Linked DNA regions of Homo sapiens. The protein of the gene in region 1 interacts with the protein of each later gene in a pairwise test. Each region holds a gene or a part of one and is shown on either strand. Other genes may lie near its edges.

What was found. Proteins that work in one complex are often made in the same cells at the same time.
Region 2: the proteins of PLSCR2 (region 1) and TMEM132D interact in a two-hybrid assay, tested with the Homo sapiens proteins (one large-scale study listed by BioGRID).

What each region holds. Positions count from the first base shown.
Region 1 is NC_000003.12:146,448,628-146,453,108, forward strand, and holds part of PLSCR2 (phospholipid scramblase 2), read right to left. Parts: intron 741-4,481; coding exon 579-740; intron 1-578. UniProt on the Homo sapiens protein: May catalyze calcium-induced ATP-independent rapid bidirectional and non-specific movement of phospholipids (lipid scrambling or lipid flip-flop) between the inner and outer leaflet of the plasma membrane.
Region 2 is NC_000012.12:129,900,542-129,905,741, reverse strand, and holds the start of TMEM132D (transmembrane protein 132D precursor), read left to right. Parts: upstream 1-1,716; 5' UTR 1,717-2,402; coding exon 2,403-2,481; intron 2,482-5,200. UniProt on the Homo sapiens protein: Regulate neuronals morphology via inhibition of the WAVE regulatory complex (WCR), a complex that controls F-actin cytoskeletal dynamics.

The DNA.
Region 1 (4,481 bases):
AACTTCTGACTCTGAGCTTCTTGTTTAGTTGAAGTGGGGAATGGCCTGATACTTGAGGGTTTTAAAAAAGTTTCTAGATAATTCTAATATAAATATACATTCAGAATCACTGCTTTACCCCATGTATTTCCTGTAAATTGATAGTTAGCTCTAGAGGCTTGATTGAATGTATACTCTTATTGCACTTTATAATCCCATGTTAGATGTTTTAATTTAATGAGTTAGGATGAAATTTCTGTGTTTCACTGAGTTTTATTCCATGTAAGACTAGCTTCACATTTTTCTCCTAATAACATATTTGATTTTTTAATAACCCTACCCCAAACCAGAGCTTCTCCTTAGCATATAAAGTTATTCTCTTGCCATTTGAAAGTGTGTAGACTCTTCAGACATAAACTAACCACCTATAAATCCAGAGTATCAGAATCAAATAGAATTTCAGTGCGGGGATTAAATGAGAACATTTTATAAAACCTTTACACTTTAAATGGTAATCTTAAAATGTATAATTTATTGAAGTATTTCAGAATGATTCTAGAGAAGCCATCTGTCACCAAGATTAGCAGGAATAGACTTACAATGAGGAAACAGGCACCAATCATCACGGCTTTCATTTTAACATCAAGGTCTCTAGGGAATTGGATTCCAAAGTTGTCAGCATCAGTAAATGCCTCTCTTAAAAACCCAGACCAGTGCTTAGAAATCCTGCCAACCACAATTTGTTCATCAAGAGATGTAATCTAAATTGCAAAAAAAAAAAAAACTTAAAAATTTCTAGAAAACTTATAGCAAAATTACTTTTAACACTGGAGTAAAAGGAAGGAAATATTATAGTACATTTATGCACCATACATGAGTATACAGTTAATATGTTATATTAGATGCATATAGGCTCCTGTATATTTATAGATACATAAAAAACTGTTCTATTGTGTAGGAAACTTACATAAAAGTAGTTTTACGAAATTTTTAACATTTTCTACTTTATATTAAGATAGACATTAATATATGTTTTATTTATTTGAATTTAACCCAAACAAAATTTAAGCAGAAAAGGATATAAATTTGAAGTATTTCTTTGATATAATTTCTAGAAGCCATCAGGAAGGAAACAAATGAAACTCCTATTAGACTTCTGCTTTTTAGAGGTGCACAGGGAGTTTACACAGCTGAATGTTTAAATATGAAGAGAGGCCTCACTACCACCCACTGTCAGTAGGAAAACATAAAATGCTAAGAGCCTAGAAAAGAAGACTGACAGTTTGAGTGAAGAAAAGCAACCAGTAAGTAACTTGATGGGATGCCTCAAGTCAAGGGTGTGGGCAAGACCAGCTAACTAGTGGGGTGTGAAGAATAAAAAAAGAATAGGTAGACAAGATCTCCAATGTAAAACTTTTCTATTTTTGTGAAAAAAAATAAAGGTTGTAAAAATTCTGCTGAGGAAAACTGAGGGTCATTATATAGCATTGAAAAGTGTGTGCTCAGACAAAAACACCTCACCAGATGGGCAGGTAGTGGCGGAATATAACTAACATTCACCAAACTACATGTTAAGAGTTATGTCAACCCAAGTCAGGAATGTCATTTTCAAATTTGAACACAGGATCAGAAATATAAATAATGACCTACATATACAGGTCACATGTGTCAGCAACACCCTTTGAAGCCATTGCCTCTGGTTGTGACCATCTAGATAAATGTAGGGAAACTGAAAACATTTGATTCATTTTAGAGTGTTGGTGAAAAGGTTCTTTTTAAAAAGTGAAATAAATGTCTAATATAAAACTGTGATTGCTATGGATTATTCTTCATCAAATATTCATTTCATTTTTCCTCCCATTGTAGTCTGAAGCATTTTCCTATTTCTTCATAATTAGGCTTTGCCTTGTGGCTTGTTTGACCAATGGAATATTAGCAGCTGTAACATGGGCAGTGATCTTACATATGGGTAAGTGGTTTGCTCTGACTCTTGGTCTCAGGTAAATAGCTACTAGAAAAGCATCGTCTAGGTAGCCTCTGCTGCTACATATCCAGAGTGAACATATATCATCTAAGCATTTGAGACTATTAATGAGAACTTTATATTTTTATTTTAAAAATCATTCAAATTTTGAAATATTTACAAAATAAAAAATGCTGAAGGTAACTTACTAGCTACCATAAACCTACTACTAGACTTAACAAATATTTCTCCATTTTGATGGCTATAGCAAGAAATTAAAAAATTCACCAAATTTATGCAAGAAGTAGAAAATAAAATTTTAATGGAGGATCAGAAATATAAATAATGACATGCATATACAGATCATTATAAAGTCTAGATAATTTTTATAAAAAAAATTTATAAAGTATAGATAATTTTAGCTAAATTCTATATAACATTTTAAAAACAAAACAAAAAAATATGGTAAAATTACTTCAACCTCTGGAAATAATACGTTGGTATTTACAACATCATAAGAAGTATACATTAAGTTTTCTTTTTTTTTTTTTTTTTTTTTTTTGAGACGAAGTCTTGCTCTTGTCCCCCAGGCTGGAGTGCAACGGCGCGATCTCCGCTCACTGCAACCTCCTGTTCCCGGGTTCAAGGGATTCTCTTGCCTTAGCTTCCCGAGTAGCTGGGATTACAGGCGCCTGCCACCACGCCTGGCTAATTTTTGTATTTTTAGTAGAGACGGGGTTTCACCATGTTGGCCAGGCTGGTCTCGAAATCCTGACTTCAGGTGATCCGCCCGCCTCGGCCTCCCAAAGTGCTGGGATTACATAAGCCACCGTGCCCGGCCTACATTAAGTTTTTATCCCTGCTTCCTGACACAGAATTTCTAAAATGCTCATAACTTTCTAAGTGATAGGGGTAATAGGAGAGTCTTGTTTTAATATTTGGTCTTTGTCCCAGATTGCTGGCACGCAGCTTCAAAATCCTTAGACTCTTCTAAGCAATAAATCTTTTATATACTAAGATGACTGGTGGTTGGTGGTTGGGGTGCCTGATAGCTTCAGTATCAGGCTGGACACCAGAAAAACCAAGCAATGCTTAGAGGATTGAATCATTCAGTCCTGTCCCCATCCTCCGGAGATGAGAGTAAGGCCAGAGTTTGAGTTATTCACCAATAGCCAGTGGTTTAAATCAGTCATGCCTACATAATGCAACTTCCTAAGAACTCTAAACAACAGGTTCAAAGGCTTTCTGGATTGGTGAACTCACTTGCCATGAAGGTGGCTTACCCCAGTTCCACAGGGACAGATCCCCCTTTGCTCAGAACTCTTCCAGAATTCATCTACTAACCTCTTCATCTGGCTATCCATCTGTATCCTTTATAATAAATCAGTAAACATAAATAAAATATGTTCCTAAATTTTGTAAGTAGTTTTAACAAATTGTCAAACCCATGGAGGAGGTTGTGTGAATCCTGCTTTATAGCTAGTTGGTTAGACGTACAGGAGGTCTTGCATTTGTGGTTGGAATTTGAAATTGGGAACAGTTTTGTGGGACTGAGACCTTAAACTGTGGTGTCTGCATTATCTACAGGTGAGTGAGTGTCAGAATTGAACTGAGTTGTAGGGAACCCAGTTGATGTCTGTAGAGAAGGAGAATTGGTTGACATGGAGAAAAAATATCCACACATTTGGTATCAGAAGTATGAGTAAAAAAAAAGAATTGTAGTGTATTATATTAGCATGAAATTTATAAATCTGTAAATTTAATACTAATAATTGGTAAAGATAGTCTAAAAAACTAAATATTTATTTGCAGTGTAAATATAAATGCAAAAAATGCAAATAGGCCACTAGCACATAGAACCTAGGTAAACATCAAAAGAATATATTAAAATAATGTGTAAGATACTAGAGGAGCACTATATAATTCAAAACATATAATTTATGAATGGTTACTGAAAAGGTATTTTTAAATTACAAACTCAGCATTTGTATAAAATTTGCTATATGCATTATTTTCCTGCATTCTCTAATCGTATGACTATTAGTTACTCTTAGAATCTGGTGTCTGCAGACATAGAGAATTGAAGAGCTACTGAATGAAATCTAAATTTTTAGTATTAAGAATGTTTCACAATTTTTTAGTGATTTACTCATTTCTTAGGAATAAATTATATTCCAATTAGACTTTTATTAATATCATTCCTAGAAGGAGAAATAATCTTTCACTTGTCTGGATTTTTATGGGCATGAAAAGAAAACTATTATTATACATATCCCTACATAAAGTTCCTATACATACATATTACACACTCACATACCCACACACCCATATATACCCACACACATGTGTATATATCCAATGCATATTATCATATATTTTATATACACATATATAATCATATATTTCATATACATATATATGTATCCCTTTATAAGAGCATTTTAAAGGTCTCTACAACACATGTGTTTTCTTAGAATTTCCCATCTCTGTCATCAGATTATAAAGTTGAAAAGGGGAAGCATTCATTTTTATATAACCA
Region 2 (5,200 bases), on another chromosome or scaffold:
TAATAAAGAACAGGGACCACTTGTTTCTAGTCAATATGTCTGAGAAATGTCTTACAAATAGACTCAGTGTCACAAATAGATGATTTACAAATAGACTCAGACCCACTGTAGCGTTAAGGATGGAACCTGGATTATGCATTCAGTGCGGGCATCAATTTTGACACTCAGAGACCAGGTGAAGGTGTCCAAGAGACGAAAGCTCAGCTCTCTCATCACTCAGGTGAAGGAGAAAGGGGACCAGTGGTTCCAGCACGTGTTCCGCAGGCCGGCAGCATCAGCATCACCTGGAACTTTTTAGGAACGGAGATCGGAAGTCCCACCTTGACCTGCCGAGATAGCTCTGGGGTGGGCCCAGCAACCCAGGTCTAACAAATTTTCCAGTGACTCTCCTGCTGGTTCAAACTTCAGAAACAGTGAAAGAGACAATCTCTTAGGGTCTTTGCAGCGTCGACTCTTAGGAATTTTACAGGAGAGCAATACAAAGAGAAAAGGCAACAAGTTTAAGAAACAAACAAAAGAAAAAACAGAAAGACAGATATATTCAGATAAGTAGATACAGAATAAAAGACAAGAGCACATCTCAAAGGACATGAACCCAGAAAAACAATCTTCGGTAGAACAGCAGTGGCTTTTTTGATCTTCCTTGAAACTTTGAAAGCTAAAAACTCTTAAAGCATTGGTATATTTCTGCAACTACAGGCATACAGGATAAAAAAGTCCATTGCCCCCTCAGTCAGATGATAACGACCCATTTTTATCTACTGAGGTGAATTCACCTCATTAGATTCAGGGCTTGTTGGTTTACAATATTCCTTAAAAATTCTGAATGCTTTTCTTCCCTCTGAGCTTTGATGGGGTTAATTTAAAGGCTCTCGTGGAGCAAAGCAGTTCTTGGGCTACAAATTACAGGACGGTGCTTAGGGATCTTGGTGTGGGAATGTCTTAGTTGGAGATTCCGGGCGGTGTTGAGAATCATGTCTTTTATCTTCTCAAAGCAATGTTGTCTCCTAATGGATCCATTTCCTTTCCCAGTGAGCCCTGGGGAGCACACGACATGTTTCTAGGGACACTAACTTGGGGGATCGCTCTGGGAAGGGGCTTGGGGCCAGCATGACCTCAGTGTGGCGTGTCAGAGACTTCCTCACTGCGATCCCTGGGAGATGCGCAGGGCGGGGCGAGGGCCCTTCTCCAGCCATCCTTGCGCTCTCCCTGGCGAAGAGCCTCAGGTGCCCCCGGGCTGGAGGACCTCCCCTGGGCCTGAGGTTTTGATGACGACGAGAGGCCGGTGGCCAGCTGGACACCTGTTGGGAGAGTGGGTGGCTCCGTCCCCGGGGTGCGCCCGCGCTGGGAGCCCTCGCCCGCCGCCACCGCGCGTCCGCGCTCGCAGGGAGGGTGGCCGGGAGGCTGGGCGTGGGGCGGCCAGGGGGAGGTGGGATTTACTTTGCGGATTGGGGCTCACAGCTGTCACTCCGAAAGGGTGGGGCTTTTTAAAAGCAGACAAATTTTTAAGGCGAAAGCCCCAGCCGGCTCCGGGCACCGTGGCGATCGCCTCCGTTCCGTTCCGGATGCGGTCCTTGCGGAGCGGAGCCCCCGCGCCTGCTGGCAGGAGGCAGCTGCGTTGCTCGGCCGCGTCCCCGAGCCGGCGGGCCCTCCTCCGCGCACATCTGGCCCGCCTCCCCCGGGCGCAGGGGGGAGCCCCGCGTCTCCGGAGCCTGCAGTGCGCTCGGCGCGCGTAGAGCCCCGCGAGCCCCAGCCGGGCCCGGGGCCGGGCGGGCCGAGGCGGCGGCCGGGGAGCAGCCGCACCCGCCAAACTTTGGGTGCCGGAGCGCGCGCGCGCCCGAGCCCCGAGGCGCAGCGGCCGGCCTGGGATGGGGGCTGCGGGCCAGGGAGCCCCGGGCCGCCCAGCGAGCCCGGCCACCCGCCCGGGGGGCTCCGAGCCGCCTCTGCCCGCGTCCCGGGCTCCGCAGCCCCGCCACCCCGGCGCCGCCTGCGCCAGCGCCCGCTAGCCAGCCCGGGAGCAGCTGGAGCCGCCGGAGCCCTGCGCCTGGAGGCGCCCCTCCTTGGGCCACCGGGGGCCACTCTTCGCTCGGGTAAACAGGAAAGGAAATACCCCCTGTGGATTAAAATTTAAAAAAAATTCTGTTGGGGTCGAAGGAGGGAGGTGGGGTTTGCCTGCGCGCGTGTTGGACTCCGGAGAGCAACTCAGGAGCCCGCGCGGTCGTCGCCTCCCGGCCTGGCCATGGACTGGCGGGAAGAGGGAGCAGGGCGCCCGGGCTGCTCGGGCCCCTAGCCGGGCGCTCCCTCGCCACCGGCCCCGCTGCGGGCCTCTAGGGGACTGAGACGGTCTCTTGTTCGCCTGGACGGCGCCGGGGAGCGGAGGATCTGCGCTCCGGGTCTCCAGGATGTGCCCGTCTGAGATGGGGACGCTGTGGCACCACTGGTCGCCGGTACTCATCAGCCTGGCCGCCCTGTTTTCCAAAGGTGAGGACGCCGCGGCCGCCAGGGCCCGGGGACTAACTTCGCCTGGAGTGAGTGTGTGGGAGTGTGTGGAGGATGGGGGCGGCCGGGAGAGAGGGCTCGTGTGCAAGTGTGTGTGCGCGCTTGTGTGCATGTGTGTGTGCGCGCGTGTGAACGTGCGCTCGTGCGGCAGCCAAGCTCCTCGGACGCCCCTTGGCCGAAGGTGCTTGTCCTGGAGCACTTGGGTGGGAGGCCTTAGGTGAGACTACTAAGGAGCCGAAAGGAAAGGAAGGCTGTTTCCTGAAAGCCTTTTCTGTAAAGGGAGAGGGCGTGGGGACCCTTGAGAGGAAAGGTGGCCTCTGGAGGGCCGAGCCGGCTGTCGGGGGAGGAGGGGATTGAGATGACCAGGGAGATTTCTGGAATTTGGGATTGACTTTCCCTGGTGGCACTGACCTATTTGGAAATAATTTTGGAGCACTCCTGTTGTATGGGAATACTATTTTGTGTATTATAGGCTGCCAAAAATATAGCCTGGGGGGCGGCTCTGAAGAAGGGGGATGGGTTTCTCCAGGTCTGCCGCTGTGAGGTTTGGGCACAGGGTCTGGCGCTCACCCTTCCGTAGGGTGCTGGGAGCAGCAGCGGCCCCGCAGGGTGCACGTGGAGTTTCAGCTACAAGTTGTGACCCGAATTTTCCCAGCGGAGCCCTGACTTGAAGCCATGTGTCAAGGCAGGAATTCCTCAATGTTTCCTCTTCTCTTCTGCCAGCATCCCTGTCTGTCATGGGAAGAGCAAGTTTGGAAGCTCTGGACAGTCATTCTTCCTTGAAGAGAAATGGTGTGATTTGTGCGGGAGATTCTTTCTCATGATTGACCTGGGCTGCTTGTGTGTGGTTCCCCCACCCGTGCCCCTTTCCTGCAGATAGATACACTGGGAGGAGAGTGAAGCGTCTCAGCAGTCTCTAATACGTGCTGCAAGAACCCTGTACCCATATTTTTCTGCAAAGATTTTTGAGATGAGATCTCTCTCAGAAACTTCAAAGCCAATTATCACGCACAAAGTCTTTTAATTACATGAATTGTCTGTTCTCTGAGTTCTTCCAGAATCACTGAGGTTATGTTGCTTTGGATCTGATAATAGATGAAGACAGTTGAAATGCCGAGTTCTGTGATGGTTCGATTTAGAAAGAGGAATTTACGTTCCCCCTCCTTCCCTGTCTTTGAAGTGTGGTTGAAATGGGCTCACGTTTCCTAATTATGAGTTAGAACAATCCCTGGGATCAGAGCCTTCTGGATTTATAATGTGCACAGGAAACCAAAGAAAAGGTTGATGAATTCAGTGAACCTGACTCAGGCAGACGTGAGGTTAAAAAAACCAAAATCCACAGCAACAACAGCCCAGCATTTTTTTTTTGGGGCGGGGGGGGTTGGTTCTCACTTGGTTTTATAATAGGTCCAGACTTCTTTGTGTTTATGCTGCAATAACAAGGTTGTATTAAGAAAGGTACAGAATAGCTTTGGAAATAGGACCTCACTATTGTGTTTTTTCACTTAGGTACATAGGTCTGTTACTGATTTCTTTATTAGACTGAGCAGTGTTGAAGAGAATTGTATTTAGCCTAATACTTGTGAACTTTTTCAACTGGGAACACTGAACATGTCCTTAAATGAGGTCCTGTGTGATGTGGAAGCCTCTTTACTAGGTGGCCAAAAATTAGCACGTAAAATGTTTACGATAAGCCTAGCATATGACATATTTTGTGTATTGAACTTAAGCAAGTCAGCCAGACAGTTCAAAAGTGAATCAGTTCTGTGTGGAGACTTTGTACAGCAATTAGCAGAGTCTGAGCACATGGTAGATGATTCAGGATTAGTCACAATATGTCAAAGAACAAGAAAAAAATCAACACCCCTATTAGCAAATTGCATAAAATGGAATTTCATGATGCAGATGTGATTTATACATTCAGGGACAGGGCCATTCTTTTCCCAATGTGTTCATATCACCTCCCTCTAAGATTCTCTGATCACTTGAAAGTTCTCACCCATCTTGCAATCAAGTATGGACTATATTGAAAAGGATTTTAATTGAAAGTAAACACACAGACACACACACATACACACATACCCCAAAGTGCCTCATTTGTCTGGGGCTGATTGAAAAAGAATATTATCAAGTATTAAATATCTGTTTCCACATATTATCATTTCTACTGTATTGTCTTTCCAAATAGGAATTTTTGAATGAAACAAAGGGCAGATTTTAATACCAGGTTAATATGCTTGAGCCTTACACGTTTATATTTCATAAGCAGAAAATGATTAGTTATAGAACAAACCCACCCTCTTGTAGATATTTTTTAAAAACAAATAAACATAAAGTTTTGTTGCTTGTATTTCTATGCCCCTGGGACCTAGGAAGTATGGTATGACACACGGAGTTTCCCCAGCAGCCTTGTCCTATGGCCCCTAATTTTTCTGGGGAATGGCCTTAAATGTTTAAGGTCTAGCTTTGCTGGCAGCTTGATGTAGTTTGCAATGGTGCTAGCCTGCAGATGAGCTTTAATGCATTACTGTGAACTTTATGGGAGGGGGCAGGTGTATGGAGGGTGGGCTGAGAGGAAAAATGGGTGAGGAGATTGGAGTTGGGCAGAGGGCAAGGTGATTTTTAAATACAAAGTCAAGAGGGTTGCCACATTTAGGTTGCTTGTTACAGTCCTCACGTGCATCCTTCCCAGTTATGTTCC